3 separate regions of the Homo sapiens genome follow, and all the other regions are linked to region 2. The links come from fine-mapping of genetic effects on gene expression. A gene starts in region 2. Each other region holds a variant in brackets. All regions are shown on one strand. Distances are between the middles of the regions. Region 1 overlaps TAGAP-AS1 (TAGAP antisense RNA 1). Region 2 holds the start of TAGAP-AS1 (TAGAP antisense RNA 1). Region 3 holds the start of TAGAP (T cell activation RhoGTPase activating protein).

Region 1 (10,385 bases), 27 kb after region 2:
AGGAGCTTCTAAGAAATCATGCAAAAGACTAAAAGACCAATAGGTAAGTTAAAATGAAATTATAAAAATATTCACTTAATCCAAAAGAATATAGGAAAGGGAGAACAAGAGGGACTAACAGCAGAGGAGACAAACATAAAGCAAATAATAAAATAATACAGCATAACCAATTAGTTTTATCCCAGGAATTCAAGGTTTGTTTAACATTAGAAAATCAATATAACTCACCATATTAACAGAATAAAGGAGAAAAACCATCTGATCATTTTCATATGTAGATAAAAAATATGACAAAATTTGATATCCATTTATAAGAAAAATTCTCACCAAACTGACTATGAAGGACTTCTTCAACTTCATAAAAAGCATCTATGAAAAACCTACGGTGAGCATTATACTTAATGGTGAAATATTAAATGATATTCTACCAAACTCAGAAAAAAGGCAAATGTGCTCATTTTTTTTACCACTTCTACTCAATATTGAATTGGAGCTTCTAGCCACTGCAATAAAGAATGATAAAATGATAAAGATTGGAAAGAAGGAAGCAAAATCGTCCTTATTTGCAGGCAATACGATTGTTTACATATGATTGTTTTCTACATCCTAAGGATCTAAAAAATAATTAGAAGTAGTATATTATTCCATTCTCACACTGCTATAAAGAACTACCTGAAACTGGGTCATCTTTGAAGAAAAGAGTCTTAATTGACCCACAGTTCCACAGGCTGTACAGGAGGCATGGCTGGGGAGGCCTCAGGAAACTTACAATCATGGCAGAAGGTGACAGGGATGCCAGCACGTCTTCACATGGTGGCAGGTGAGAGACAGAACGAAGGCGGAGGTGCTACACACTTTTAAAAGAAGCAGGTCTCATGAGAATTCCATCACAAGACAGCACTAGAAGGATGGTGCTAAACCACTAGAAACCACCCTTATGATTCACCTTTCACCAGGCCCCACCTCCAACACTCAGTATCACAATTCAACATGAGATTTGGGTAAGTACACAGAACCAAACCATATCATTTTGCACCTGGCCTTTACCAAATGTCATGTCCTTTTCACGTTTCAAAAAACAATTATGCCTTCCCAAGAATCCTCCAAATTCTTAACTCGTTCCAGAATTAACTCAAAAGTCCCAGTCCAAAGTCTCATCTGAGACAAGGCAAGTACTACTCCTCTGCCTATGAGCCTGTAAAATAAAGAAACAAGTTAGTTAGTTCCAAGATACAGTGCAGGTACAGGCATCGAGTAAATGCTCCCATTCCAAAAGGGAGAAATTGGCCAAAACAAAGGGGCTATAGGCCTCTTGCAAGCAAAACCCAGGAAGGCAGTCATTTAATCTCCAAGCTCCAAAATACTCTCCTTTGACTCCATGTCTCACATCCAAGGCACACTGATGCAAGGGGTGGGCTCCCAAGGCCTTGGGCAGCTCTGCCTCTGTGGCTTTGCAGGGTACAACCCCCAAAGCTACTTTCATGGGCTGGGATTGAGTGCCTGCAGCTTTTTCAGGCGAACAGTGCATGCTGTCAGTGGATCTATCATCCTGGGGTCTGGAAGATGGTGGCTCTCTTCTCACAGCTCCATTAGGCAGTGCCCCAGTGGGAACTTGGTGGGAGCTCCAACCCCACATTTCACCTTCACACTGCCCTTGTAGAGGTTCTTCATGAGGGATCCAGTCCTGCAGCAGACTTCTGCCTGGACATCCGGGTGTTTCCATACATCCTCTGAAATCTAGGCAGAGGCTCCCAAGTCTCAACTCTTGCCCTTTGCATACCCACAGGCCCAACACCATAGGGAAGCCATCAAGACTTGGGGCTTACACCCTCTGAAGCAATGACCTGAGCTGTACTGTGGCCCCTTTTAGCCATGGCTGAAACGGGAGCAGCTGGGATGCAGGGCACCATGTCCCAAGGCTGCACAGAGCAGTAAGGCCCTGGACCTGGCCCACGAAACCATTTCTCCCTCCTAGGCCTCTGGGCCTGTAATAGGAAGGGCTGCTATGAAGGTCTCTGAAATGTCTTAGAGGGATTTTCCCCATTGTCTTGGCTATTAATATTTGGCTCCTTTTTACTTATGTAAATTTCTGCAGCTGGCTTGAATTACTTCCCAGAAAATAGGTTTTTCTTTTCTACTACATGGCAGGTTGAAAATTTTCCAAGCTTTTATACTCTGCTTTCCTTTTAAATATAAGTTCCAATATCAAACCACCTCTTCGGAAATGCATATGAGCATATGCTGTTAGAAGCAGCCAGGTCACTTCTTGAATGCTTTGCTGCTTTGAAATTTCTTCCACCAGATACTCTAAATAATCTCTCTCAAGTTCAAAGTTTCACAGATCCCTAGAGCAGGGGCACAATGCCACCAGTCTCTTTGCTGAAGCATAGCAAGAATGACCTTTACTCCAGTTCCCAATAAGTTCCTCATCTCCCTCTAAGACCTCCTTGGCCTGGACTTCATTGTCCATATCTCACTATCAGTATTTTGGTCAAAGCCATTCAACAAGTCTCTAGGAAGTTCCAAACTTTCCCTTATCTTCTTGTCTTCTTCTGAGCCTTCCAAACTGTTCCAACCTCTGCCCATCCAAAGCTGCTTCCACATTTTCAGGTATCTTTTGTAGCAATGCCCCACTTCTCTGATACCAATTTCCTATATTAGTCCATTCTCACACTGCTATAAAGAACTATCTGAGACTGGGTAATCTATGAAGAAAAGAGGTTTAATTGACTCACAATTCTGCAGGCTGTACAGGAGGCATGGCTGGGGAGGCCTCAGAAAACTTACAATCATGGCAGAAGGTGAAGGGGAAGCCAGCACATCTTCATATGATGGCAGGTAAGAAAGAATGAAAGGGGAGGTGCTACACACTTTTAAAAGAAGCAGATCTCATGAGAATTCCATCATGAGATAGCAGTGGAGAGATGGTGCTAAACCATTAGAAACCACCCCCATGATCCAATCACCTCCCTCCAGGCCCCACTTCCAACACTCAGGGTCACAATCCAACATGAGATTTGGGTGGGGACACAAGAGCCAAACCACATCAAGTAGTAAGTAAATACGGCAAAGTATATGAAATTAAAAATACAAAAATCAATTCTGTTTTCTTTTTTAAATTTTACAGGCAGGGTCTTGCTCTGTTTACCTAGGCTGGAGTGCAGTGGCACAATTATAGCTCACTGCAGCCTCAAATTCCTTGGCTCAAGCAATCCTCTCACCTCAGCCTCCTAAGTTTCTGGGACTACAGGCATGTGCCACCATACCCGGCTTATTTTTTATTTTTGTCAAGATGGTCTCACTCTGTTGACCAGGCTGGTCTCGAACTCCTGGCCTCAAGTGATCCTCCCGCCTTGGCCTCACAAAGGATGAGATTTCAGACATGAGCCACTGTGCCTGGCCAATTCTATTCTTATATTTTAGCAGCAAACCACTGGAAAATGAATTGAAAAGCAATTTCATTTATAATAGGTTCAAAAATAAAATATTTAGTAGTACATTTAAGAACAGATGTACACAGGTGTATATCTACATTTAGATGTACACCTGTTACACGTAACAGATGTACACATCAGCATAGTGTATTATTAAACTTTTAGATTTTTGCTTATCTCATGGGAGAAATAGTGTCTTCGTGTAGTTTAGTTTTTTTAAAAAAATGAGTGAACTTGTGTATCTTTTCAAAAGTTAAAGAGCCATTTGCTTTTTTTTTTTTTTAAACATATTTTAAAATAGAGAGTGGGTCTCACTATGTTGCTCAGGCTGGTCTCTTAGCTTCTGGGCTCAAGCTGTCTGCCCACCTCAGCCTTCTAAAGTGCTGGGATGACAGGCATGAGCCACCATGCCCAGTTCCATTTGCTTTTCTTTTTCTGTGTATTGGCTGTTCGTATCCCTTGCACATTTCTTATTGAGTTTTGTTCTTTCCCTTATCTTTTTACAGGAACTTTATATGTTATAGAAGTTAGCCCCAAGAATGAAATCGTGTCCTTTGCCAAAACATGGA[TG/T]GAGCTAGAGGCCTTTATCCTAAGTGAGTTAACGCAGGAACAGAAAGCCAAATAGTGCATGTTCTCACTGATAAGTGGGAGCTAAACTATGGGTTCACAAAGGCATGCAGAGTGGTACTGTGGACATTGGAGACTCAGAATGGGGGAGGCTAGGAGGGAGGTAAGGGATGAAAAAGTACCTGTTGGGTACAATGTACACTACTTGGGTGACGATGGGTCCACTAAAATCCCAGATTTAACCACTGTACAATTCATCCATGTAACCAAAACCCACCTGTACCCCAATGCTATGAAAATAAATAAAACCAAATTAGCTCTGTTTCTGTTAGATGAGATGCAAATATTTTCCCAAGTTTGTCCTTTGTCTTTTGACTTTGTTTATGGTGTTTCACTCATGCAGATGTTTTTTATTTTCATGTTTTTAACTTGTCATTATTTTCTTTCATGTCTTCTGGATTTTAAGTCATGTTATCAAGGCTTTCCCACTCTGATATTATAAATGAATTTTTCCTCATTTCTCTTAGAACTTTGATTCTTTCACTTCCCACATTTAACCTTCCACGTATCCAGAATTTCCCCTAGCATAAGTTGATACGGTCCCAATGTTTCTTTTTTTTTTTTCCCAAATGGCCACTCATTTATACCAACACCATTTATTGAATCGTCTATAGTCCCCACTGATTTGAAATGCCAGCTTTACATACCAAAGTCCTGTATGCATTTGCCTCTGTTCTGTTTGGTAGGTCTATTCAAGCTCCAGTTCCCAAAAGTGTTGAGTGTCGCTTAAAATCTAGAAGGGCTGGTTTCTAGTTTTCCATAATTGCTCCTCTTTTCTAGTGTCCTCTGTCCTATTAGGGCTTATTGATTTTTAAATATGATTTGTGGATTCAGTTTTCTTTAGTTCTAGTGAGCAACAAAAACAACCAAGAAAAAAATAAAAAAAACCCTCCCTGTTTTCCTTTCTTTCTTTCTTTTTTTAATCAAGATCACCTTAAGTTTAAAAATTAACGTAGGATAACTTGACATATTTTATGATTTTTATGTTACTCTCCAAAAATATAATAAGTGGTTCTATTTATTCAACTCTACTCCTTTGTCCTGCAGGAACATTTTGTTTCCTTATCAAGTCTGATATTGTCTTTTGGTCTGAGATAGACATATTTAAAAAAATTGTGTTCATTGATTTCTATCTTATTAAAGACTGGTTTTGCTAACTTTGTTCCTATCTATTTTTTGTGAACGTACATGGGGCCTTTTCTTTTGCTATATTTTCTAGCTATTAGTATGTACAGAGGCTTTTGATTTCTGTGTATTTATTTTATACCTTGCTTGCTCAGTGTGTTTTATTTCTAGTAATTTTTGTTATTAGTTGATTCTCATGAATTTTCCAGATATCCAATTATATAATTTGTAAATAGTCATAGCCTTACCTCCTCTCCTACAATTTTTGTTTCTCTGATTTCTTTCTCTTGTCTGGTTGCTTTAGATAGTACCTCCAGAGTGTGTTAGATAATAAAGGGAAATAATGCCAATCAGACTTTTTTCTGACTTCAAGGGAGTTTCTAGTGTTTCCTTATTAAGTCTGATATTGCCTTTTGGTCTGAAATAGACATATTTTTTTAAAAATTGTGTTCATTCATTTCTATTTTATTACATATATTTTTAAAAAACCTCAAAAGGCCTGGTGCAGTGGCTCACACCTGCAATCTCAGCACTTTGGGAGGCTGAGATGGGAGGATTGCTTGAGGCCCGGAGTTCAAGACCAGCCTGATCAACATAGTGGGACCCTATCTGTATTATTTTTAAAAACATAATAAATAAAAACCTCATAATGGAGATTAAATTTTGATAGGGCTTGTCTTACTATCTATGGATCTAATCATGTTACTTTCCCTCTAACTTATTAATATGATATATCATATTAATAATTCCTACATCAAGTCATATTTGCATTTTGGAATAAATGTCACTTGGTCATCATATATTCTATTAGATAATATTTTATAATTTTTACATCAATATTTGTAAGACTGATCTGTAATTTTCCTTTTTGTGTATGTGAAATTGTTACTGGGTTTTGGTAGCAGTTATAGTTGCTTTATCAAGATAATTTAAAAGTTTTTTTTTTCTTTTTCATAGTCTAGGTAGTTTAAATAGCACTGGAATGATCTGTTTTTTAAAGATTTGGAAGAAATCCTGTGAAACCAACTGGACTTAGGGAATTAGGGAGAGTGGTTGGCTAGTTTCTTTGTTTCATCTATGAAATAAATCTGCTTAAGATTTTTCTGTTTTTTGTAATCAGGTTGGTAAATTATGTCTTCCTAGAAAAATGATAATCTCATTCATATTTCAAATATAGTTGCATAGCGTATTCAAATATATTAATACAATATATAATATAATATATATTAATATAATGTATATTATGTATTATAATATATAGTACTTCAAATATATTTGCATAGAATATTCAAATATATTTGCAAAGTAGTCTTTTGATTCTTCTAATTTTCTGTAGTTATTGTCCCATTAGCATTTCTCATGTTGTATGTTTTTAATTTCTCCCTTTTCCTTGCTTAGATTAAGCAGAAGTTTGTTTTATTTATTTTTTCAGAGAGCCAGCTTTGGTTGTATTTATCAGTTTTATTCTTTTTCTGTTTTCTAAATTATTAATTTCAACTTTATTTTTATTATTTCCTTTTCTAGCTCCATAAGTGGTATGCTGAATTCATTCATTTTTACTTTTGTTTATTAATATAATCATATGAGGATGTAAATTTTCATCTGAACGCCACTGTAGCTATATCTCAGATTCTTGGTGTTAATATATATAATTAGCTGTTGTCATAATTATGATTTATGGTAGAAAGCCACTAGAGAGTTAAGAAAATAAGTGAATTTGCTTACTTAGGATGGGCCTAAATTAAGAAGGGCCTTGAATGATAGATGGTAGGCAGAGGACTTTAGACTCAATAAAAATAGTGTTAAGAAGACATTGAAAATCCTTGGTTAGGAAACTAACAAGATACGTGTTGTTTGGAAAGATGAACAGCCCGTATATCAGCAGTTACCTTATCTACTGCTTTGTGTTTTTCAAAACAAATTTTGGATAAGAAATGCCCTTTTCAGCAAAGATGGAAAAATAACATCTAACTATTTACTTCTCAAAGATATTGCCAAATCCTGTAAGTGAATATCCAGCTGGAACCTTCCACAATTGTTTTGAATGTTGTACTTGCACTTGTTTGAAATCTTTAAGTTTCCTTTAAATGTGAAGTATATCCTAAAGTAATGAGACCATGAAGCAGCCATTCATTTCTACTATGTATTTTGTGTTATTATCACTCACTTGGAACTTACCTTTGCTGTCAAAGGTGTCTTATTTCTCTACTAGATTGTAAATTCCTTATACAAATGCAATATTTTTATATTGTAGGAGGCCAATATTTGTTACTAATTTATTTTGCTTAAAACTACTGTTGTATAATTGTAAAATTCTCACAGTGAGCATACAAATAATTGAAATACTCTTGAGACTGTTATCTACCTTATCTTTTTATTATTCCTAATCATATGGAACATTTTCAATGGTCTCATATTAAGTAGATAGTCTACTTTATCCTGCCTTTTTAATCATTGAGCAACTAAATTTGGATTTGTTTCGTTGTACCTACGATCTCTTTTATTTGACTTTTGTGTCAAGGCCTTGCAGTATCCATCTCCTAATTTCTTACTGATTTTGCTGGGAGAGGCAATTGGCTATAAAAACTGTATTCTTAGGTTCCTCTGCTGGTAAGAGTAGCCACGTACTGGCCGAGTGCGGTGGCTCACGCCTGTAATCCCAGCTCTTTGGGAGGCCGAGGCAGGCAGATTGCCTGAGCTCAGGAGTTCGTGACCAGCCTGGGCAACACGGTGAAACCCCGTCTCTACTAAAATACAAAAAATTAGCTAGGTGTGGTGGCATGCGCCTGTACTTCCAACTACTTGGGAGGCTGAGGCAGGAGAATGGCTTGAACCCAGGAGGCAGAGGTTGCAGTGAGCCGAGATCGTGCCACTGCACTCCAGCTTGGGCAACAGAGTGAGACTCCGTCTCAAAAAAAAAAAAAAAAAAAAAAAAAAAAAAGAGAAGCCACGTACTAAGTTCTGGCCTCTGGGATGGAGGTAGAGGTTATTGAGCAGAAAGTTCCTGCTTGGGATCTGGAGGGAAAGGTTGGGGGAAGAGGATCATGTTCCCAGAAAGGATGGTAGACTAGAAAGTTGAAGTTGTGCACAAGACTGGCTACATAATTTGCAGGGCCCAGTGCAAAGTGGAAATGCAAGGCTCCTGTTCTCAATTATTAATACTCTAAAAATGCCAATAGCAGAGAATTACCCTAGCATTGGGTCCACAGGTCATAGCCCCATGCAACTGGCTCTGAGTATGAAGGAACCCGGGGCCGGAGGAGGCCATGAGCCTTCATCCCAGCCCTGGGCTGCCAGTCTGTTCTTTTCATAGAGCGCACAAACCTCCTTCTTGGTTAAGCGTCTGTTGTCTGGGTTTTCTGTTACATGCGTTCCGTAACTGATGCAAGTTATCATTACCCTCATCTGATAGATGGAGAAACCGGAGCTCAGACAGGTTTAGTGCCCTGTGCATGGGAGCAGATTTCGGGGTATTCACAGACTCAGGTTCTGTGAATTTGGGTCGTATATTCATTCTGTGTCAACACGTTGTCTTTCTTTTTCCACGGAGATGTTAACATTCTGCATTTCCTATTTCTGGCCAGATTTTGCATTCTGCAAGTTTGCTTGTTTCACAATGCCCCCCTCTTTGTAGCCTGTAGTAGGAGGAAGAACTTCATCCCATTTGTTTTTCCTCATTTACATTTAATTTTTACTCTGGAGTGAACATAATGCAGAAGTTCAGTCCACATTTAAAATATTGCTAAAAAGTGATTCACTTCCAATTCTAGCAAAACGTTTATACCTCTGATTCCTCAGTAATTCTCTTTTTGCAGAGGAAGAGTTAAGATTACATAATTTAATTAAAAAAGAAACTGGAAACATGTAAGATCGCATCCGATGTGAGTTTCTGTCTGACCTTTCAAGAGAGAAGCATGTATTGGCGATTTTTCCAGTGAGATCATGATCAGAAGAATTTATCTATCAATGTATACTTTTAATTTAGGATAAACCTAAGGATAAACAGTGTTTGTAGCTCTTTGCACATTCTATCTATGGCCATAGGATGTGCTATGGCCATTAACTGTCATTTGTTTTGTTAGCGCTAAAAACCATAGCTGCGACTTCAACTTCCTAGGGACCCCAGTGTAACACAGGTGTTGTATTTGTTGCGTTCAAGTTCTGGTGCAATCTTAGTTTTGCTAAGCTCCTGCAAAAGCACCTAACACAAGTCAACATTTCTGAAACAAGTTTTAATTTCTTTCAGTCCTCAGTAGTGCTGGTGTGTGGGTTGGGGGCATGGTGCACAGTGTGTCAGCACAGATAATCCGTGTATCATGGGTCATCCACCTCTCCCCCTCTTTACCGGAGGAGAGAGCATCTCCCAGGGAATCAGACCTGAATTTAAGTTTGAGCTCCTAATTAGGCTTCCAACCCGGTTTTACTATACACTTTGCATCAGGTACATCTGTGATTGTCCCATTTGTCATTAGTGTGGGCCCTTAGGAAGTCAATAGAGGACAGAACTCTGGTGTTCCTGGATCCTTGACTAAAGCATCATTTTATTGTCATCTAAATCTCACTAGAAGCCCTAGCTCTCTGGTTATGGTGAAATATTCAAATTATTGGCATATTCAAGGTATCATTAAGTAGTATTTTGAAAAACTTGGTGTTATGGGTTGAATTGTGTCTTGCCCTATCCAAATTCATATGTTGAAGTCCTAATCCCCAACATCTCAGAATGTGACTATATTTGGAGAGAGGGTCTTTACAGAGGTAAAATGAGGTCATTAGGTTGTGTCCTAATCCAGTATAACTGGTGTCCTTAGAAGAAGGGGAAATTTGGAGACAGACTCACGTAGAGGGAAGATAATGTGAAGAGACACAGGGAGGAGGCCATCTGTGCTAAGGAGAGAGCCCTGGAACCTATTCTCCCTCACAGCCCCAGAAGGAACCAACCCTGCTGAAACCTTGACCTTAGACCTCCGGATTTCAGAACTGTGAAACATACATTTCTGTGGTCTGAGCCGCCTGATCTATGGTACTTTTTACAGCAGCTCTCAAAAACTAATATACTTGGGAGCCAGGTTGGGAAAACCTGTTTGAAAGGCAGATGGACTCCATAGATAGGAGTGGGGCTACCACACTGTGCAATATTTGAAATAGTCAACTGTTGCTGTCTGCACTGTTCAAAGACTAACAATGACATTTGCTTGGGCA
Region 2 (10,245 bases):
ACATAACATGTTCACAGGTTCTGGGGACTAGGAAGAGGACATCTTTGGGGAATCATTATTCTGCCCTCTACGGTGATTTTAAACCTTATTTGACCTGAGTAAAAATAAAAATAAAAAAAAGGTATGTTCTAAGGTTTTAATTCATTTGCATTAAAAATGTTATTTTATTGGAAGGGTTATATATCCTTTACCAAAGGATTTGTAAAATGAGGGAATGTCATTATCACAATTGTCTTTTCACACATGCCTAAAGGTGAATTTAATGGCATTTATGATCACCCAACTACCAAGAAATACATAAAAGATGTATTACATTCTCTTGTTTGTAAATGAGAAGACTAGTATTCAAATGTTCTCTTTCAGCTTTATAATCCTATGAAAAGGTGGAAGTTCTTGATTCACATTAGACTTGTGTTAAATTTCTAGACCCTTTCAAAGGAAAAATCAGATACTCCCATTTCTGTATTTGTGTAACTGACTTCTCATACCTAAGTAAAACTTCACAGCTTTCCAATTAAGTTTCATTTTTTGGTTTCAGCCCAGTTATATATACCCAATCAAGATAATTTAGAACCTTGACTCCCTTCAGTCATAAGTTAGTTATCCATTCCAGCCATGTGTCATCTGAAAAACTGAAGATTTATCCAGTTCAACATAAAATTTTGAACATGAAAGAACTAAACGACATTCTAGGATAGAGACAGATTGACACAAAAGCATACTCTTTTTGGATATGGTCATTTAGTTACTCACCAGCAAGTACTAAAAGTACTGCTGTGGTCTGGATATGGTTTGTCGTCTCCACTAAAACTCACATGGAAATTTAATTTCCAATATGGCAGTGTTGGGAAGTGGGGCCTAGTGGGAGGTGTTTGGAACATGGGTGGATCCCTCATGAATGGCTTGGCACCAGTTCTCGCAGTAGTGAGGGAACTCTTACTCTCAAGAGACTGGATTAAGTTCTCACAGGACTAGTTCCAGAGACAGCAAGTTGCTACAAAATGAGGTACTTCCTCCTGTTTGGCCACTTCCCACGGATCTGCTTCCCCTTTGACCTTCTCCATCATGTTATGAAACAACAAGAAAAGCCCTCACTAGAAGGCAAGCAGATGCCAGCACCATGCTCTTGTACTTCTCAGTCTGCAGAGCTGTGAGCTAAATAGATCTCTTTATAGACTATCCAGTTTCAGATACTCTGTTAGAGCAACATAAGATGGATTAAGACAAGTACTCTCCTGAACACTTTTTTTTTTTTTTTTTTGAGACAGAGTTTCGCTTTGTCGCCCAGGCTGGAGTGCAGTGGCGTGATCTTGGCTCACTGCAACCTCCGCCTTCTGGGTTTAAGTGATCCTCCTGCGTCAGCCTCCCAAGTACCTGGGATTACAGGTACATGCCACCATGCCCGGCTACTCTCCTGAACACTTAAAAAATATTTTATTCATAAGGATATCAGAGGAGAATATTATCCTTATCCATAAGCAAATTATGGATAAAATATCAGTATTTTATCCATTAGGATATCAATGATTATGATTTGTAAGATAATACTTCCTCAAAATTGAGATTTTTCTGTCTTGTGCATTACTCAGATATACTAATAAACTAATCAATAGATTACTTCAATATACTAATCAACTATCAAAAAAGTTGTTCCTAATGAACCACCATTGATTCTTGTTTCTAATCTGTTGGTCTGATTGGATAGTAATGATTTGTAAGCAACCACTTAAAGGCACCAGAAAGTGTTTTTGGAAGGATTAGAAAATTTTAAAATTGAATCCTTTTCTAATATAAATGATCACTCTTCAAATTTAAATTTTCTATTTTAGTTTTCTTACAGTGATAGACATCTCTTATAGAAAAAGAATTTGTTAGAACAAGATAATTATGAATTTAGAAAGAGCGTTTGAAATAAGCATCAATAATTACATTGTTGATGTTCAATCATCAGTTTGACAATTCGTATTAAGTGCTTACTATGTACCAGGCATTGTACTAGGTGAACAAAAGATGCAAAAGTTCCTGCATCCATGGAGCTTGCATTCCTATAAAGTTCTGCTGAATTCAACATTTGAGGCTTATGGAAAGAACTTTAGAGAACCGTTTAACTTTAAGAGAACTTTAAGAGTTTATGTTTTTTTTGCTGGGTGTGGTGGCTCAGGCCTGTAATCCCAGCATTTTGGGAGGCCGAGGCGGGCGGATCATGAGGTCAGGAGATCGAGAGTATCCTGGCTAACATGGTGAAACCCCGTCTCTACTAAAAAAATACAAAAAAAAAAAAAAAAAAAAAAAGAGCCGGGCGTGGTGGCGGGCGCCTGTAGTCCCAGCTACTTGGGAGGCTGAGGCAGGAGAATGGCGTGAACCCGGGAGGTGGAGGTTGCAGTGAGCCGAGATTGTGCCACTGCACTCCAGCCTGGGCGACAGAGCGAGACTCCGTCTCAAAAAAAAAAAAAGAAAAAAAAAAAGGCTTATGTTTTGTTTTTTTTCTTTCCTATGTATGTTTGAATATTTGCAACTGTTCATGGATGTAAAAACACAAACTGCCGTCCGGGCGCGGTGGCTCACGCTTGTAATCCCAGCACTTTGGGAGGCCGAGGCGGGCGGATCACTTGAGGCCAAGAGTTTGAGACCAGCCTGGCCAACGTGGCAAAACCCTGTCTCTACTAAAAATACAAAGATTAGCCGGGGGTGGTGGAGGGCGCCTCTAGTCCCAGCTACTTGGGAGGCTGAGGCAGGAGAATCGTTTGATCGGGGAGGAGTGGGGGAGGGGGGCGGAGGTTGCAGTGAGCGGAGATCGCGTCATTGCAGTCCAGCCTGGGCGACAAGAGCGAAACTCCGTCTCAAAACAACAACAGCAACCACCACCACCACCACCACCACCACCACAAAAAACCAATCTGTGGTCCTGCATGGAAGAATAATCTTACTCCTGCTCAAAGCCTGCCGAAGAGATTTACTCGGCTCCCATTTTGGATATGCTACTGTTGGATATCTTTGCACCGCGGTCTCCTCATCTGCATAATGGAGTTATAAAATCAACTTCACAGCACTGTGGATTAACTAAGAAAACGTATTTGAATGCCCCCCGTAAGGTGCTCAGCACGTAGTTGGCCCTCAATACACACTGGTACAATTCAAACTTTGTGAAATGAGCCAATTCGTGTACATGTTAAGGACCACGGCAGCAACTCATATCACTAAAAGTTAACTGATGCCCAACCCATGCCCCTTCCTGCTTCACTCCTCCACACCACGGGAGATTCCTTAGGGCAGAACTTTTATTTCGGCAGAGTGCAGCCAAGGGAAGACAGCATAAGCAGCTTTTTTGCCAGGGCGAAGGGGCCAGACCCCGGCCTGGGGATGGGGTGCAAGTATGGACCACACAGGGGCTGGCTTGGTCACTCACGGCTGCGTCAGGCTGTCCCGGTAACGGCTGCGCTGGCAGGGCAGTGCTCGGGGCCGGCTGGTGTAGGTGTAGGTGCTCGGGGCCCGAGAGGTGCGATCAGTCAGCGCTGAGGCCATGTCCGGGGGCTGACTGCCTCGCTTTCGGTGGAGCTTGGCTTTGAAGCAGGTGGGCGCTAAGGTGTTGTGGGACCCGGAGAGATGTAAGTAGTGCCAAGGGCAAGGATTCCGCGACGCGAGGAGAGGCGACAACAAGGGAGGCGGGCGGGACGGGAGGTTACCAGCGCAGGAGGTGGGAGCTATACTGGGCTCGCTCCCAGCACCACAGAGACCAGCTGCGGGGGCCGCATCGGTTGCCCAGCAACCCAGGGTTCTGTCTGGGGGCGGGAACTCCGGGCAGTTCCGGTCCCCAGGTTTCCCGGGAAGGACTGCGGCACAAGGGACTTCCGGCTCTTGACTCCGCCCAGCCGCGCCACCCAGGTAGGTGCGCCTGCGCTTTGCGAGGTTCCTGGCTAGGGAGGCGGCCTTGGCTGGCTTGACCGTCATCCTTGAGGCCTGCGGGGCAACGGTGGCTGTCCTTGGCCCGGCTTTGGAATGTGGCTTTGCAGGGCTGGTGTTGGCGCCATTCTCGCAGGCCCACGTGCTCCTGCTCTTCCAGGGTGTCCTCGGCTGTTTCTCCTGCCGCGGCGCAGCAGCGCTCCCAGGCTGCCCCCGCGATAACACGCCCCTGGCAGCCAGGCTCCCAGCTCTGTTACGTGCCCGGGCGGGGAAGAGCTTCCTGGTGTCTCCCGGCTCCTGCCCTTCTCCCGCCCCAGGGGCGGGCTGCCGCCGCCCTCTGCAGCTGAGTCAGTGCAGTTCCTCACCTACCTTCTCTGCTCACCGCTGTGTGCTAGCAATCGGAGGACCCTTGGCACACGGAGCGACAGGGGCCTCCCCCACAGACACCTCATTTTGGGAAAGAAGTGAGCAATTTATTGAGTCTTAAAAAATACAAAGGCATAGTTCCCCTTAATCTATCAGGCTTCCAGCTCTAAAGAATGTCTCTAGTATTGCGGGGTGGGGCTGCGCTTAAAAACGCAGACGCTTTGGTTTTAGTACCAGCAACGTTAAAAATCTTCTATCTTGTATGAGTGAATGTGTATCCCTTGTGATCAGTTATTTGCATTTGCAGTTACACCTTCATTCAGCTAATTGCTGTCTTGATTTGAATCCAGGTTCTAGAATGTACTAGCTCCGAAACCTCAGGCAAGTTAAATGTTTTTGTGCTTCATTTTCCTAATCCACAAAGTGGCAATAGAAGAATTTATCTCTTTAGGTTTTGTCTTGAGGATTAAAACCGTTAATACTTAGAGCTGTGCCTGGTAAATGGCAAGCCTTTATATTAAGATCTGGACCGTTCTGTGCTTTGAAGTGTATGACCTAAAGCAGATGTAGGCATTCTATAAGTAACACTAGCATAAAGGTGTATGGTAAATTCTAGAGGTGAAAACACTCCCAACATATTTTAGGTCTGATCATTTAATTTTGAGGTAATTTCTGAAAGGGCTAGAGGAGAAAGTGACATTTAAGTTGTGTTTGATAAATGATAGTATTTTAACTGGCCAGCCTCTTGGGGGAAGTGCATTCGGAATGGCTTGATCAAAGGCTCAAGAAGCCCAAGGTGCATTTGGAAAACTGTAAGCAAGGTTTGTGTAGATGAGTTGTAGAAATATATATAGACAGGCTGACACCACATCGTGGAAACAGTAAACACTAGCATATTAATTAGAATATTTTTTCCCTCAAGTAACAAAAAACCAATTCCAAGTGGCTGAAATAATAAGGAATTCATTATTTTACACTCCCCAGGTTGGTTAACCTGGAGGGTAACTTGGGGGCTCAGCACATTATCAACAACACGTTTTTTCCCCTACCTTTCCACTCTGTCACCTGGGTTGTTGGCTTCAACAAAGTAGTAATAGAAGTATCTGCTCTTTTGTCTTTATTGGAAGAGCAAAACCCCCTCGTAAACTCCCAACTGACCAGAATTACATCATATTGATTTAAGCTTAGGATCTATATAAGACCACCATATTTGGATTAGACCAGGTAACCGGTCTTTCTAGGCCTCCAAGAAACACTTGGCCAGGGAGGAGGAGAACAAATTCTGTTAGGAGGATGTTGGGGCAGAATTGAGTGGGTATTAAGTGGGTAAACAATAGTGCTATACCAGCCACAGTGGGCTTTATAAAGAAATTGATAGCCACTATAGGTTCTTGTACAAGTTTCTTTCTTTTTTTTTTTTTTTAGATGGAGTCTCGCTCTGTGGCCAGGCTGGAGTGCAGTGGCGCGATCTTGGCTCACTGCAACCTCCGCCTCCCCGGTTCAAGTGGTTCTCCTGCCTCAGCCTCCTGAGTAGCTGGGACTACAGGCGTGTGCCACCCCGTCCAGCTAATTTCTGTATTTTTAGTAGAGGCGGGGTTTCACCATGTTGGCCAGGATGGTCTTGTTCTCTTGACCTGGTGATCCGCCCTCCTCAGCCTCCCAAAGTGTTGGGATTACAGGCGTGAGCCACTGTGCCTGGCCTGTACAAGTTTTTATCCACAGCCTGTTTCTCTTCTTGTACTTTCTCCCAGGGCAGTCCCATTTCACGTCTGTAATTTCTAGTACCACCTATATACTCAGGGTAGCAAAGGATGTATCTCTAACCTAGACTTCTCCCTCAGGTGACAGTCCTGGATATCTGACTATTTTGTGGACAACTCTTGGATGATCTGAAACTGAAAGATTCATTCCACAAATAGTTATGTGTATCTAGTATGTGCCAAGCATTGTTGTTTTCTTGTCCCTCGTCCCCACTCCCCTGGTGTTAGTGGGGATATAGCAGTGAAAAACAAAAACAAACAACAGATTAAAAGTCCTGCCTTGACAGAATTTATATTCTAGTGGAGGAGTCATACAAACAAGAAAAGTGAGTACATTATGGGTGTTACATAATTATAATAGCTAATTCGAAATAAAGCAGGAAATAAGGCTAGGTGCTAGGGGCATGGGAGACCTATCAATTTTATAGTGGTCAGAGAAGGCTTCATTGAGAAGGTGACATTTGAGTAAAGACTTGAAGGAGGTGAAGAAATGAAACTTGAGACTTGTGACTAATTGTCACAGCATTCCAGGTCAAGGAAGCAGCCAATTCCTCGTTCTAAGGCAGGAAGTCGTGTTGGGGATGGCAGTAAGAGTGAGTGGAGCAGAGTGAGCACAAGGAGGAGCATTCGGAGATGAAGTCAGAGGCTGGGCCGTGCGCCCTGTTGTAGGTCAGTGAAAGGACTTTAGGTTTTACTCTAGGGTTAAAAGTCCCTAAAGGGTTTTGAGTAGAAGCTTGACATAGTTTGATTAAAAAAATTTGTTTTTTCTAGTTGTTTGGTTGAGAATAGACTGAAGTGGGGCAAAGGCAGAAGCAGAGAGACCAGATAGGAAGCTGCTCCCAATAAGGCTGGTGAGAGGGTGGCTTGGATCTGGTGTAGGTGTGGTGCTCGGGCCCGAGAGATGCAGTGAGTCAGTGCCGAGGCCATGTCGGGGGACAGACTGCCTTGCTTTCAGTGGAGCTTGGTTCTGGATCTGGGACAAAAGTGGTGGGAAGATCCCAGCTCAATTTTGAAGGTAGAACAGATTGGACGTGACGTGGTGCACGAGAGAAAGAAAGGCAAAAGAGATGAACCTAAGGTTTCTGATTAAATGTTAGACATTGTGTAGGAAAAAAATCACATAGAGGCTCTGGCAAAAAAAAAAAAACTAAATAAATAAATAAAAAATAAATAAATAAATTGCATAGAGACTGTGGCTGATGTTGTGTTTCTCCAGAAAGGATTTAATTTTATTCTGGCAAGCAATTAGAGTAGGAACGGATGACTTTTTTTTTTTTTTTTTTTGAGGCGGAGTTTTGCTCTTGTTGCCCAGGCTGGAGTACAATGGCACTGTCTTGGCTCACTGTGGCCTCCACCTCCCGGGTTCAAGCAATTCTCCTGTCTCACCTCCCAGGTAGCTGGGATTACAGGTGTGCACCACCATGCCCGGCCAATTTTGTATTTTTTTAGTAGAGACTGGGTTTCACCATGTTGATCAGGCTGGTCTCGAACTCCTGACCTCAAGTGATCCACCTGCATTGGCCTCCTAAAGTACTGGGATTACAGGTGTGAGCCCCTGCGCCTGGCCTCAGATGACCTTTAATTAGGGATTCAGACTTTGTGAGGGCTGATCATTTTCTAGTTTGGCCTTATCCCAGAGCTAGGCCTTTCTATTCTTTCTCAACATGAACATCTGTGGTATTTAACAGGTCCCCATCTTTGGGTGACCTTGAACTCCAATTTTTGTACTCCCAGCTCTGTGAGACTGTTGAAATGTACACTTAGCATTTTAGCTATTTAGCAACTGTTTGGTTTCTTGATTTCCAGTGCCCTTACAGCTTAGAATTCAGCAAATGCCTCAAGGATAAAAGCCAAACTAAATGTCAGACTGGCTTCTCTATGATCCTCCTTTCTTTGGGATCTGTCCCTTCAAGTCCTATCCGCAGTTTTCAACTCCAATTTTTTATCTCCCCGTATCTGAAAGGGCCCTGATACCTCCAGGTCACTGCTTTCTGCTCGCCATAAATGCCCTGCACAAAACTCAGCAAATGACCCAATCAGAAAAAGCAATGGAGAAGTTCTGTATCACTTTATGCATCTGTCTTCTGGGATCCCAGTCTCTCATGTCTTGACCATCTTGGTTGCTCTCCAGTGTCTTCAAACAGCCTGTGTAGTTTTTGTTATGTGTGCTTTTTTAAATGTTCAGCTCTTGTGCTTATTCCCATGAGAGGACTGGTTTAATTTAAACTATTCAATTACAGCTAGAGGCCATGATAAAGTTGTTGACTAGAGTATCTGGAAGAATGGAGTTGCCATTTAGTGATAGAGGGAACGCTGGGGAGGATCCATTATTGGAGTGAGCATTAGCAGCTTGGTCTGGGGCACATCAAGCTTGGAAGGCATGTTAGTCATCCAAGTGGAGATGTTGAGTAGACAGTTGGACATGGGAGTCTAGAGTTTCAGGAGATTGGTCTGGGCTACAGAAGTGGATTTTTGAATCAACAGCCATGAGACTTGATAAGATTACCAAGGGAGTGTAGAGAGATAAGGCCTTGAGTGTTCCAATATTTAGAGTTTGGAAAGATGAGGAATAATCAGCAAAGGAGACTGCAAAAGAGGGCCAACAAAATGGTAGAAAATGCGGAAAGCCTGGTCACCTGGGAGTTAAGTAATGAAAGTGTTTCAAGGAGAAAGTAATCAGCTGTATCTAATGCTATACATGTGCTAAGCAAGATAAGAACATTGGATCTAGCAGCATAGAGGTCTCTGGTGATCTGAAAAAAGGCAACTTTCATGAAGTTGTAGAAGAGAAAGTTCAGTTATAATGGATCCTGAAGAGAGTGACAGAAGAGCGATTTATGACTCAAGGAAAGAAAAAACAAATGGGCTGGTAGTTAAAGGGAAATTGAGTCAAGAAAAGGTTCAATATTTTTTAATGGTAGAATTGACCGTATGTGTATGTGCTTCTAGAAGTGATTCAGGAGAGAGGGTGGAATGGATGGTGTGGGACGGAGGGAAGAATTGGTGGAATGATGTTGGCAAAAAGGAATAGGCTTTTGTGCATAAGTTGAGGGATTGGCCTTGCCTAGAAACATGGACAATTCGTCTATAGTAAGAAGAGAAAAGGTAGATCTATGACCACAGACATAGTCAGATAATCATTTTAAAATTCTTTAATCAATAGATGTTTCTGATGTATGGCAGGCAGTAAGCTAAGCAGTTTACATACCTGATTTCATTTAGTTATTATAACAATCCCAGTCTAACAATGAGGTAGATTCTGATATTATTCCCATTTAATTTGCAAGGAACTGAAATTTAGAGAAGTTAAAATGACTTACCAAAGTCATATAGCAAGCAAGTGACAGGACCAAGACTTAAGCCCTTGACTGCTGGACTCTAGAACTTAAGCAAGAAAGCATCAGCTTATGATGTTCATTGTCCTCCCACTCCCAGATCCCCCATTTCTTGCCCCTTTTGCTTGTTCCCCCTCCCCTCATTCTCCATATCCCAATAATCACTAAGTCCTGTCCATTTTACTTCCTCAGTGTTTCTTGCTTCTGGATCCTCTTTTTTGTATCCTTCCTATTCCTACCAGCCTTTGACCTCATCATTCTGACCTCATGTAGTCTAAATTAAATCGTCTATGGAACCAAACAATAATCGAACAGAATGTGATCCTTGATCATGCTTGCTCCATAACCCACTGCCTAATGAGTTCAAGTTTCTTAAACTATGCTATAAGCCTGCCACTACCCGGTTACTGCGTATTTTTCGAATTTCACATCTCACTGATTTCTGTCTTGTACTTTTTTTCTCAGCAGAGCTGAGCGCTTGCAGTCCCACTGCATGAACTATCATGTTTCCACGCTGTGTTTGTGCTTTATGATTTTTCCTTGTCTCTTTTCCTGGATTTTTTTTCTACTCCTCTTTTAAACCTCAGCTCCTGTTGCTTTCTCCAGGAAGGCATTTCTTTTTTTTTTTGAGACAGAGTTTCACTTCTTGTTGCCCAGGCTGGAGTGCAATGGTGCTATCTCGGCTCACTGCAACCTCTGCCTCCCAGGTTCAAGCGATTCTCCTGTCTCAGCCTCCCAAGTAGCTGGGATTACGGGCATGCACCACCACACCTGGCTAATTTTATATTTTTAGTAGAGACAGGATTTCTCCATGTTGGTCAGGCTGATCTTGAACTCCCGACCTCAGGTGATCCACCCGCCTCGGCCTCCCAAAGTGCTGGGAT
Region 3 (10,385 bases), 48 kb after region 2:
GACTAAAAGAGAAAAAATAAAATTAGGTAAATATCTTTTGGCCCTTGCCTGTAGGAAACGTGAATGAATGAATGTGAGAGGGGCACTCACAGCATTGTGGCTGCTTCTCAGCTTCATCAGTATTGCGGCTGACTGTCCAGGGGTGGATTTCACTCCCGTGTGGCTGTGCCTCTGTCTACAACGAATCACATGGAAAGGAGTTAGGAGGGACTCACACAGTAGGCCACTTTCAGCGCCACTTTGCCAAAGCACAGAGTTTGAAACTATTTATTTATTTTTCTCTTTTGCTATTTTTTCACTTGCCTTTACTTTGGAAAAAACTATTACATAGACAAGTTTTCATTTAAAATCAGTTCTGTTACCAGATGTTGTATGTTGTTAAGAGCAGCATCTGAACACAATTATTTCTAAATTATTTAAGTCAACTATCTTTACCACTCTAAACGTTGTTACCAATTTATTCCGTTCCATCAAGAGATAATCTGGATATCAATTACGTTAACATTTTAAATTAACATGAACATTAACTTTTTTGGTGGAGTGCTGACTATATGCCAGCTGTCGTAGTAGGTGCTTTGCATGGATTTTCTCATCTAATCCAAAAAGGAAAAAAAAAAAAACATATCCCTAGGATGCTAAAATAGTAAACATGAAACAAAGATAACATTTACAGAACTCCTACACCAAAAAGGTGCAGCCTTCACGTTGAAGCAAAGCTTTGTCCTGAGACTTTATAAAGTGAGAGCATATTCCACGGGATAGCTGTTTTCTGTTGCCTGTGATCTGAGTGACCTGTGACTTGCGAGGCAGCTTGTAATTTCTAGGCATGTTAATATATAGTGTACTTACCCTTGGAGGGTCTCTAGCCAGAGTTCTTTTACATCCGGTGAGCTGTAAAGAATGGGAGAAACAGCATAACTCTCTGCTCCTTCTAGTCCACTGGGAGAGAGAGAGACCGAGCCGGTCTCCCTTCACATGCTCTGCATTATAAGCGAAGGGGCGGGCAGGTGGAAATTCAGAATATTACAGAGACCGGAAAGAACATCATGGGCTGTCACACGGACGGAGCCAGCCAGACACTGGAGAGCTCTCGCTTCCTCATTCCTTTTAGGGCAGCTATGTCTTTTTTTTTTTTTTTTTTTTTTTTTTTTTTTGTGTCTTCCACTTCAAAGTAAAAAATCTGTAAACTACTAGGAGTGGAAAACATGACATTCAGCCCATAGGTGAAGGCTCTGATTAATGTCATAGGTGGGATGTGTGAACAAGAAATTGTGTTATTCTGTGCATAAACATCACTTTATTTTCTAAAGTGGTAATTTCAAGTGCCTCTTTTTGCATCCTGTTTGGGTGCTCTTTCCCCTCCCACGTGCCATCTGCTCTGTCCACCAGCACCACACGTTGATTAGCACCCCTGGATGTGGGACACTGTTACAGAACCAGAAAGAAACCCAAGACAGTCCCTTCCTTGAGGAACAATCACCGTCCAAAGCCAGGTTAGTTTCCTTTGGAAGTAGAAAGAAAACTCCCTCGAGTCAGTTGTCAATATAGTAACCCCCTCCTCCTTTCTGTAACTCCTGGTCAAAAGTATTGATACTTAATTTACAGTCAGAGCAGCTGTCGTTCTGACACGGAAGGAAAACAAACAAAAAAATTCCTTTGATCAGACCAACTTAAAGTAGGAAAGAGATGGTGAATTTCATTTGTGGATCACTCTTCTGCATAAGAGAATTTCTGATCTTTTCTGTAGATCAAGGGCTATATATGAAACCACTCAAATGCCTCGACACGAGAATGGATGCATAAATTGTGATCCATTCACATAGGGAATGAATGTTGTATAGCACTGATAATGAACAGCCTATGACTATAGCCAACAATATGGTTGGATCTCATAATATGACGCTGAGCAAAAGAAGCCAGACGTGAAAGTGTATATCCTGCCGGCTCCCATTAATGCAAAGCACAAAATTAGCAAAAGTCGTCTGTGCTGTTGGAAGCAAGAGTAGCAGTTTCCCAGAGGGGATGGTAATGACTTCCAGGGGCCAGCGGGGGGCTTGGTGATGGTCCATTCTTGATCTGGGTGGTGCTAGGCTTATGTGCACACTTCCCTATTTATGTAATTTTTCAATAAAAAGTTTTAAAATAACTTGGCTTCATTTATCATCAGCATCTTTAATTTTAAGACTTTTCCGCATTGTCAGTTCTTTTGTCATTTTACTGAAAGGAGGTGATTATGGGGCAGACTTTGGGAAACCGAAGCACAGAGAGGTCGAAATTTGCTCTGTAACTTAGCGGCTCGGTGGGGACCTAGGGACAGATCCTGGTTTTCAGGCTTCCAGCTGGGGGCTCCCTCTCTGAAAGCCACCACAGTGCCAGAGTTCACCCAGTGTTCCCAGGGCAGCTGTAGAGGCCACCACTCTTTCAGCATCCCTCTCCTGCCTTTATAAACCTCCAAAGTGAACTCACTGATTTTTTTAATTGAAAAAGGGCATTTACGCTGTGCCCAGCCTAGTGCTAGGCATATAGTAGGTACTAAATAACTAATTTCTGAATATATACATTTCCTTATAAAATAGCCAAAATAGAATATTACTATAATGTTCTATATATCATAGAATATATATGTGATGTATATTCATTGCTAGTATGTATTTTCTAAACTTTTTTTTTTCCCGACAAACGGACTTTTCAAATTTTTGTAAGAAACTTAATGTACTTACTGTTCTTTCTTTTTTTTTTTTTTTGAGATGGAGTTTCGCTCTTGTCACCCAGGCTGGAGTGCAATGGCGTGATCTCGGCTCACTGCAACCTCTGCCTCCTGGGTTCAAGTGATTCTCCTGTCTCAACCTCCTGAGTAGTTGGAATTACAGGCACGCGCCACCATACCTGGCTAATTTTTGTATTTTTAGTAGAGATGGGGTTTCGCCATGTTGGCCAGGCTGGTCTGGAAATCCTGACCTCAGGTGATCCACCCATCTTGGCCTCCCAAAGTGCTGGGATTACAGATGTGAGCCACTGTGCCCAGCCTCAGCATCTTTTAAAAATACATAACATGAATGGTTTGATGACCTGCAGAAATGGTTACATCGACGGACTTTTCTTTTTCTTCTGGGACCTACCATGCCTAGTTAAGCACCCAGGGAACTATCTAGGATGAAAAGTTAGTAGCAAATACGGCAACAGAATTAGGGCCCCTCCATTTTTTGAAACAGAAATATGTTTTGGCTCTTCTTATTGACACAACTGATGGTGGGAAAGCCCAGAGGGAGGTGCCATCCTTTGGGGTCCCTGGGAGATTTTGACAGTCAACATCTAATGAATAGGTACATTTTGTGACTGAAGGAAAGCCACCATTGTTGGCTGGTGCTGCTGGGGGACTGAGGAGACGTTCTCCTTTATGACTGTGGCCCCGCCTGCATATGGCGCCTACTGTGGAAAGAGAAAGAGTTGTGAAGGGCAGGTGCTGCACCCTCAACTCTGAAAATCTCACAGTAATTTTGATCGCAGTTTTCCGAGCACTAGGAGAAACATTTATAAATAAAGTGTAAAATTTGGAAGCAGTCATGCCAAAAGTTAGAAAAAAAGATGGAAATGTCAGATTCACTTTTTCCATATTCTTGTCTCCCACACATCTCTTTGAAAAGCAAGCTCTCATCGTCCTGCATAGTAAGAGTCTTCAGAACGTGGAAAGGAACTTCAGTGGCTTTTGCTGGGTTGGGCTGAAGGAAACCCCGGTGAAACCCACACCTGTAAAGATGCTTCTCACAGTGGGACTTTTATCGCTTGGGTCCTGGTCACAATCAATTTTTCTGCAAATAATTGGCTTTGCTTTTCTTGTGGTGAGTCTCTAAGGACAGTGAGTTCCGTTCTGGGGACTGTGAGTTCTATGCTGTGTACATGTGTGCTTTGGAGGGTGACTGGAAGCACCATCGTTCCTTCCCATACTTTCAGGCTCAGTTACCGCTTCAGTCTGGACTGTTGTGAACGAGAATATGGAAGTCATTTTCCCCACATTGTTTACCCAGCTTGCCTGGGAAACACCAACTGGAGGATTAGAGTCCGGCTCTTCAGTTTGAACTCACTTTCCCTTTCTCTTCCTGGGACCACCCAGTGATTCAGAGCCCTGCATTCTGTAATGAGATTAATGTCAACAGTTTCCTGCATTGAAGATTATTTTCCCAAAGAGTTCACGATTTCCTTCAGGACTTCTCCATCACCCCAGTGTCTGGCTACCTAATGACTGATTAACAGGTTGATTTTCTAGAAAACTCAAATTACAATTTCTTTTTTTTAAAAAAGGGCAATCCAGCCTTTTCTCTGATTATCCGTCCTCCCCATCTCCCACTTGTCCTATGTTTTAGCCACACAGGCTGTTGTCATCCCCTAAAAGTGTGCTTCTGAGTCTCCAGGCCTTTGATAAATTGTTCCCTCCTCCTGAAATGCCATTCAC[G/C]CCATCTGCCTTTTGGAATTCTGCCCTTCCCTCGGAATCTAGCCCAAGTCCTATCTCCTCTAAGAAGGGACTTTTCTAGATTGAATTAAATTTCCTTCCCTGGCCCTGCATAGTGGCCGCACCCAGTAGACTGTGAGTCTACTTTTTTCATCTTTTATTCTTACAAGTGCCTGGCCTCATATTTTGCACACAGTAGGCATTTGCTATACTTTAATTACTAGTAAAATTGAGTGATAAAATAAAACATTTAAATCTCACCATACGTTTGCTGGTATTGCAATTTGTTACTCAGACTTTTTGTCACTTAGCCTTTGACTGTTTCGTTTCATGGAGAAAGACTACCTCTTTGTCACGCTGTAACAGAGACCATCGTTGCAGAATTTGATTGAGCTGGAGACAGCCTCTCCTTGCACACACCGCGGGCTTATGTCGATACCAATGTTGTGGGATTAGACACATGGACTCTCTAGCTCTGTGGTGAGGAAGGAGGCCTCGCCTTAGGTGGACTTGAGTGTCAGCTTCTGTCAGTGAATCTGTCAGGAGGGCGTGACCACACCTGTCCAGCCTCTCACCTCCCACCCTCCAAGGACCAAAGCCTTACCAGTGTTCTCACCTTAGACTCCCTAGTTCTGTGTGCTCTGGGAGGTGTGGACGTCCCCAGAGCCATGCTCCTCACTGTCTGGTGGCAGAGGAGGACTTAGCATAAAGGACTCCGGGGGCTGGGAAGTTGGTGCTCACTTTGAATGACGGTCTTGGATTCACTAATCTGCAAAGTACCCAACCTGCAGAATCTTTTATGCGGTGACTTTGGTTATAGCGAATTAGCAATAAAACTCCTTGCCTGCCTCTCCTCTAAGAAACTTCTAGGAAAGTCTGTGGGTGGGGAAGATATGCCTGGAAGAGACGTTCTCACCTCTCTGCAGGCCCCGGGCTCACAGATACAGGCAAGGACTCAGTCTCGGCTACGGTAAATACAGTTCAGTCCTTTAAGGTCATTTTTTAATTTTTGTTTTTTTTCCTGGCAGGAGAAGGGCTGCCTTCCAGGGAACTTCTCAGAGGTTTGCTGGGACCCTGGCATCCCTGAAATAATGTCAAGCATCATTTCATCTTGCAAAATAATTTGCTGTCTCCACAAATGGCTGCATTTCTGCAGTAGTGGAAGCAGACATTTCAAATTTGCCCCCTCAGATATTTGCAATTATGAATTTATCTTTGTGTTGGAATACAAAATAGGCTCAGCATAAAATAATATTTGAAGAACGCTGTGTTTTCAAAAGCTGGCTTGAAAACTAAGAAAGGCTCAAACAAAATGTTCTTTTTAAACTGGCTTCTCCACTTATTGTGATCAAGATGAAGAATTAAAAATAAGACATCCTGAGATTAGGTGATTAGAAGCTGTATGGCTGATGACACAAACTGCTATGGGACCCAGGCAGGGCCTCAGCTTAGCCGCGCTTATCACTGCTATGGGACCCAGGCAGGGCCTCACCTTAGCTGCGTTATCACTGCTATGGGACCCAGGCAGGGCTTCATCTTAGCTACATTATCAGTGCTGTAGGACCCAGGTAGGGCTTCAGCTTAGCTGTGTTTATCACTTTAAGAACTAAAGAATGTGGCTGGGCGCGGTGGCTCACGCCTGTAATCCCAGCACTTTGGGAGGCCGAGGTGGGCAGATCACGAGGTCTGGAGTTCAAGACCATTCTGGCCAACATGGTGAAACACTGTCCCTACTAAAAATACAAAAAATGATCTGGGCATGGTGGCACACGCCTGTAGTCCCAGCTACTCAGGAGGCTGAGGCAGGTGAATCACTTGAACCCGGGAGGCGGAGGTTGCAGTGAGCCCAGATCTCACCACTGCACTCCAGCCTGGCAACAGAGCGAGACTCCGTTTCCAAAAAAAAATAAAAAATAAAAACAAAAAAACTAAAGAATCTTTTCTTTCTGTTGATATTTTGGCCTGAAAAATTGCACAAGGCAAACATGATGTCAAAAAAGGCATGTCAGCAGCCCTGAACATCAGTTAACTACAATATGATTTGGTAGGTTATTTTTTTGAAGAAACAAAGAGAAAACTATGAAAGCTGAGGTTCTTTGTTAGCAGTCTACAAAATTCATGTGCAGCATTTGTAAAAATCTGAACCAAAAAAGTAGAAATGGTGGAAAAATGTTTAGTTTGCCCCATGCTTTTAAAATGCCTTTTAAAGATATATTTACTGTAGTTGACTTTGGTTTTTTTACTGAGCACTTTTTTTCATTTGTCATATGAAAAAAATTATCCAGGGCTTTTACCTCCCTGTGTAAATTTTAAAAAAGAAAAGTATTTGTTATTTTGAATGTGTGTGGTCCCCTTCTCAAATATGTGCCTTATTTGGTGTCTCCTAAGAAAATCTTTCAGTGATGCCCTCCCAAGCGGCCCCTGCTCCTCGGGGTTGGGGAGCGTGGCCACTAGGCACGCAGCTCCTGCCAGGGGAAGCAGTAAGGGGGTCTCCAACCTGAAGACAAACTCTCACCTGGCCGGAGCGGGCTTGCCAGTGCTCAGGGCACTGTGCTCATTGGTGGCTTCACATCTGATTTTCACCTTTTCACCCAGGTTCAGCTAGCAACCATTTAGCAAGTCCTAACCCTTTGTGGCTGGGTCTGTGGAGTGCTTTCTTTTCCTGGCAATTGTAGCCTTCCTGATGGACTAGTCCAGACTGGTTCTGATTTAGACTCTAGGACCAGTCCGGGGGAAGGGTTTAAAGCTAGTGTCATCTTCTGTGTGAAAAGACTTTGGGCAGAGGGGCAAGGGAAAGCCACGTAATTTTTGCAAACCTGATGCTGCCTCCTGGGCTTTTCTTACAGAAAAAAGAATCATAAGATTTCTCCTTCTGTTTTTGGGTCATAAAACATTATGTAACACACTAGAAAGCATTATATATATATATATATATATATATATATATATATATATATATATATATATATTTTTTTTTTTGAGATGGAGTCTCACTTTGTTGCCCATGCTGGAGTGCAGTGGTGTGATCTTGGCTCACTGCAACCTCTGCCTCCTGGTTCAAGCAATTCTCTGCCTTAGCCTCCCGAGTAGCTGGGATTACAGGCACCCGCCACCACACCCAGCTAATTTTTGTATTTTTAGTAGAGACGAGGTTTCACCATCTTGGCCAGGCTAGTCTTGAACTCCTGACCTCGTGATCCACCTGCTTCGGCCTCCCAAAGTGCTGAGATTATGGGCGTGAGCCACCGCGCCCAGCCATGATACATATTTAAAAAAATTTCCATATCTTTCCTAAGTTTGCATATGTTAACTGGAAAACTGAGCCCAGAAGCCCTTTCTCTGAGTTGTAGCCTTTGTGAGATCTTCCATAAATCTCAAACAGCAACCATTTCTCAAATGTGCAGTGCAGTGCTGCTCCAAGTTGATCGCGTATCAGAATCACCTGGAGGTTCATTCAAACCTAGACTGTGGCCTCCACCTTGGAGCGTCTGATTCGGCAGGTCTGGGGAGAGGCCTGAAAATGTGCATTTGTAATGAGTACCCAGTGACGCTGATGCAGCTGGTCTGAGGGCCACACTCTGAAGGATGGCTGTGGAAGCACAGTAAGACCTCATTTAATGTCATCCATAGATTCTTGGAAACTGTGACTCTAAGCAAATCAACGTATAATGAAAACAATTTTCCCATAGGCTAACTGATGATGTAAACAAGAGTCAAGTTCCTGTGGCATATTTCTGGTCACAAAAGGATCACTGAACTTTTCAGTAAAGACCCATAACACTTCAAATATTAAACATTGAAATAAGTGTGAGCTATACGTACATTTAGGAAAGATGAATAAAAACAAAGAGGTTCATTATTTACCTGCTCATTCCAGTTCAGGGTCTGGGGTGACAAGAGACCATCCTGGCGGCTCAGCTGCCACCCCATCGCAGGGCACACTCACACACACACCTAAGCTCACTCAACCTGGGACCACATAGACACGCCAGTTCACCGAATGGCACAGCTTTGGGATGTGGGAGGAAACCAGAGGACCCAGAGGAGACCCATGTGGATGTTGGGAGAGCATGGAAATTCCACACTGAGAGTGGCCGTAGCCGGGAAGAAATTGTTTTTCTTCATCCACGTGATAATGAAATGACATTGAACAAAATGATGTTATTTGAGGGCCTGCTGTATCATGAAAAAGTAAAAAGTAAAATGTATTTAATATATTCCTGCTTCCTGGCTTTGGAGTAGTTTATTTAACGGCATTTTTATAATCACTAGGTTATTCCATGATTCCTTGCTAGCTTTCACGTTCTATCTTGCCCCTTGAAATTAGAGTGCAGGTCCTTAAATTGAAGCAATTCATTCTTACACCCCAAGACAAGCCTGGGGTGCACAGTATGAAGTACACAAATATCCATTTTTAAGAATGAGTAAAACAGGTGCCCAGCCTGAAGCTGTACTTCTGCTTTTTTGGATATTTGGACACATTTCTTCTTCTGATTGCTATGCTCAACCATGTTTTCCCAGACAAAAGCTGAGGGCTACTCCAAAGGAATCGTTTACACTTTTATGTTGAGACTAAGCCCTAGACCTTTCACCAGGTGGCTAAACAGAAGAGAGAAGGCATCTACTGCTTGGCTCACTTAGAGCCCCGAGATCTAACTCAACAGAGGCTTTGCTAATTTTACTTAATTTTTTCAAATAAATGTGGTATTTCCCTATTGGCGACTCACTTTCAATGGCCTGGGTTAAGGAAGCCAAATAGACCACCAGGTGCACAAACTTGTCTTGAACCTAAGAGCCAGCTGTATGTCCACGGGGCGTCTGTTTTTTGTGAGAGAGCTCAGCTCTCCACAAATGCCCCTTGGAAGATCCCTAAACACTTGAAGGTGAGCTTCCTTGACCACCACCTGCAAGAACACTCGGGGTGTGTGTGTGTGTGTGTGTGTGTGTGTGTGTAACATTATCCTTTCATGATGCATGTTTACCATGTACAAATGACCAGGTCGACAGAGTAAATAAGGCGTTAGTTGAATCTCTCTGACAATTGAGAAAAGGCAGTTTAAAGTTTAAATATCAGTCCTTCTCAAACTTGGCTGCACGTGAGAATCCCCTGGGAAGCTTTTTAAGAATAATCAATGCCCACACCTAATCTTTGACCAATAAAATGGAAATTTCTGAAGACGGGATTTCAGGATTAAAAAAAATTCTCCAGAGAATTCCAACATGCAGCTTAACCAGTGATCTCAGCCACAGTTTTTGGGGTCAACTGATCTGTCAGTTTTATAATGGGATCCTTTTCCACTGTAACCACAGGCACCAGGCAATCTTAGAAGCAGCAGGTACCTTGTCCGCCTGGGTGGGAAGCTGAGCCTCAGCGTCCCTCCATTGAGCAGCGTCGTCTCAGGAGCACTATTTCCCTAACTTACCCCTTCTCACCCACAAAGTGAGAGAGCTGAGGTGACTTAGAATCTGCTGCAGTCTTGTGGTTAATGAAATGTGGCCATAATTCTTTGAGGCGGCTTCTATCAAGACACGGAGTCTACTTCCCCACTTTATATGAGGCTGCCCTCATGACTTGTAGAATGCAGAAAAAAGGATACTGTGCTCCAATGGCCTCAAAGTTTCCACCTTTGCCCTCTTGAATGCAGCCCTGAGATAGCCATGTGAGGAAGCCATACAAGCTTCCTGGAGGATGAGAGACCACGTGGAGGAGAGACAAGGTGCCCAGCCCACAGCCAACACCAACTCTCAGACGTGTGTGTAAGGCCGTCTTGGGCGATCCTGAATGTCATCTAAGTGAGACCGTGTGAAACCAACAGTAGAACTGCCCAGCCAACCCGTAGAATCCTGCTAAATCAGAAATTGATGCTGTTTTAGGAGACTGAGTTTTTGGTGGTTATTATTCAGCAATAGGTGCCTGAAACAAATAGTGACTCCATAA

What was found.
Region 1: its variant is fine-mapped to the expression of TAGAP-AS1 in lung (TOPMed, PIP above 0.99).
Region 3: its variant is fine-mapped to the expression of TAGAP-AS1 in whole blood (TOPMed, PIP 0.97).

Annotation. Positions count from the first base shown.
Region 1 is chr6:159,023,204-159,033,588 of GRCh38, forward strand. It overlaps TAGAP-AS1 (TAGAP antisense RNA 1), which reads left to right. Exons shown (of 5, transcript NR_183546.1): 2 at 2,746-2,838; 3 at 3,941-4,027. Among named protein-coding and RNA genes, the nearest start is that of TAGAP, 17 kb to the right of the region's middle. The variant TG/T (reference allele first, on the strand shown) is at 4,004.
Region 2 is chr6:158,996,029-159,006,273 of GRCh38, forward strand. It overlaps TAGAP-AS1 (TAGAP antisense RNA 1), which reads left to right and starts at 3,845. Exons shown (of 5, transcript NR_183546.1): 1 at 3,845-4,364. RSPH3 (radial spoke head 3) reads right to left here and starts at 4,174. Exons shown (of 8, transcript NM_031924.8): 1 at 3,407-4,174. The coding sequence starts at 3,522. RefSeq lists enhancers at 2,917-3,888, 3,373-3,522, 3,543-3,592, 3,623-3,692, 3,863-4,022 and 2 more.
Region 3 is chr6:159,044,030-159,054,414 of GRCh38, forward strand. TAGAP (T cell activation RhoGTPase activating protein) reads right to left here and starts at 962. Exons shown (of 10, transcript NM_054114.5): 1 at 850-962; 2 at 91-175; 3 at 1-2. The coding sequence starts at 117. The variant G/C (reference allele first, on the strand shown) is at 4,451.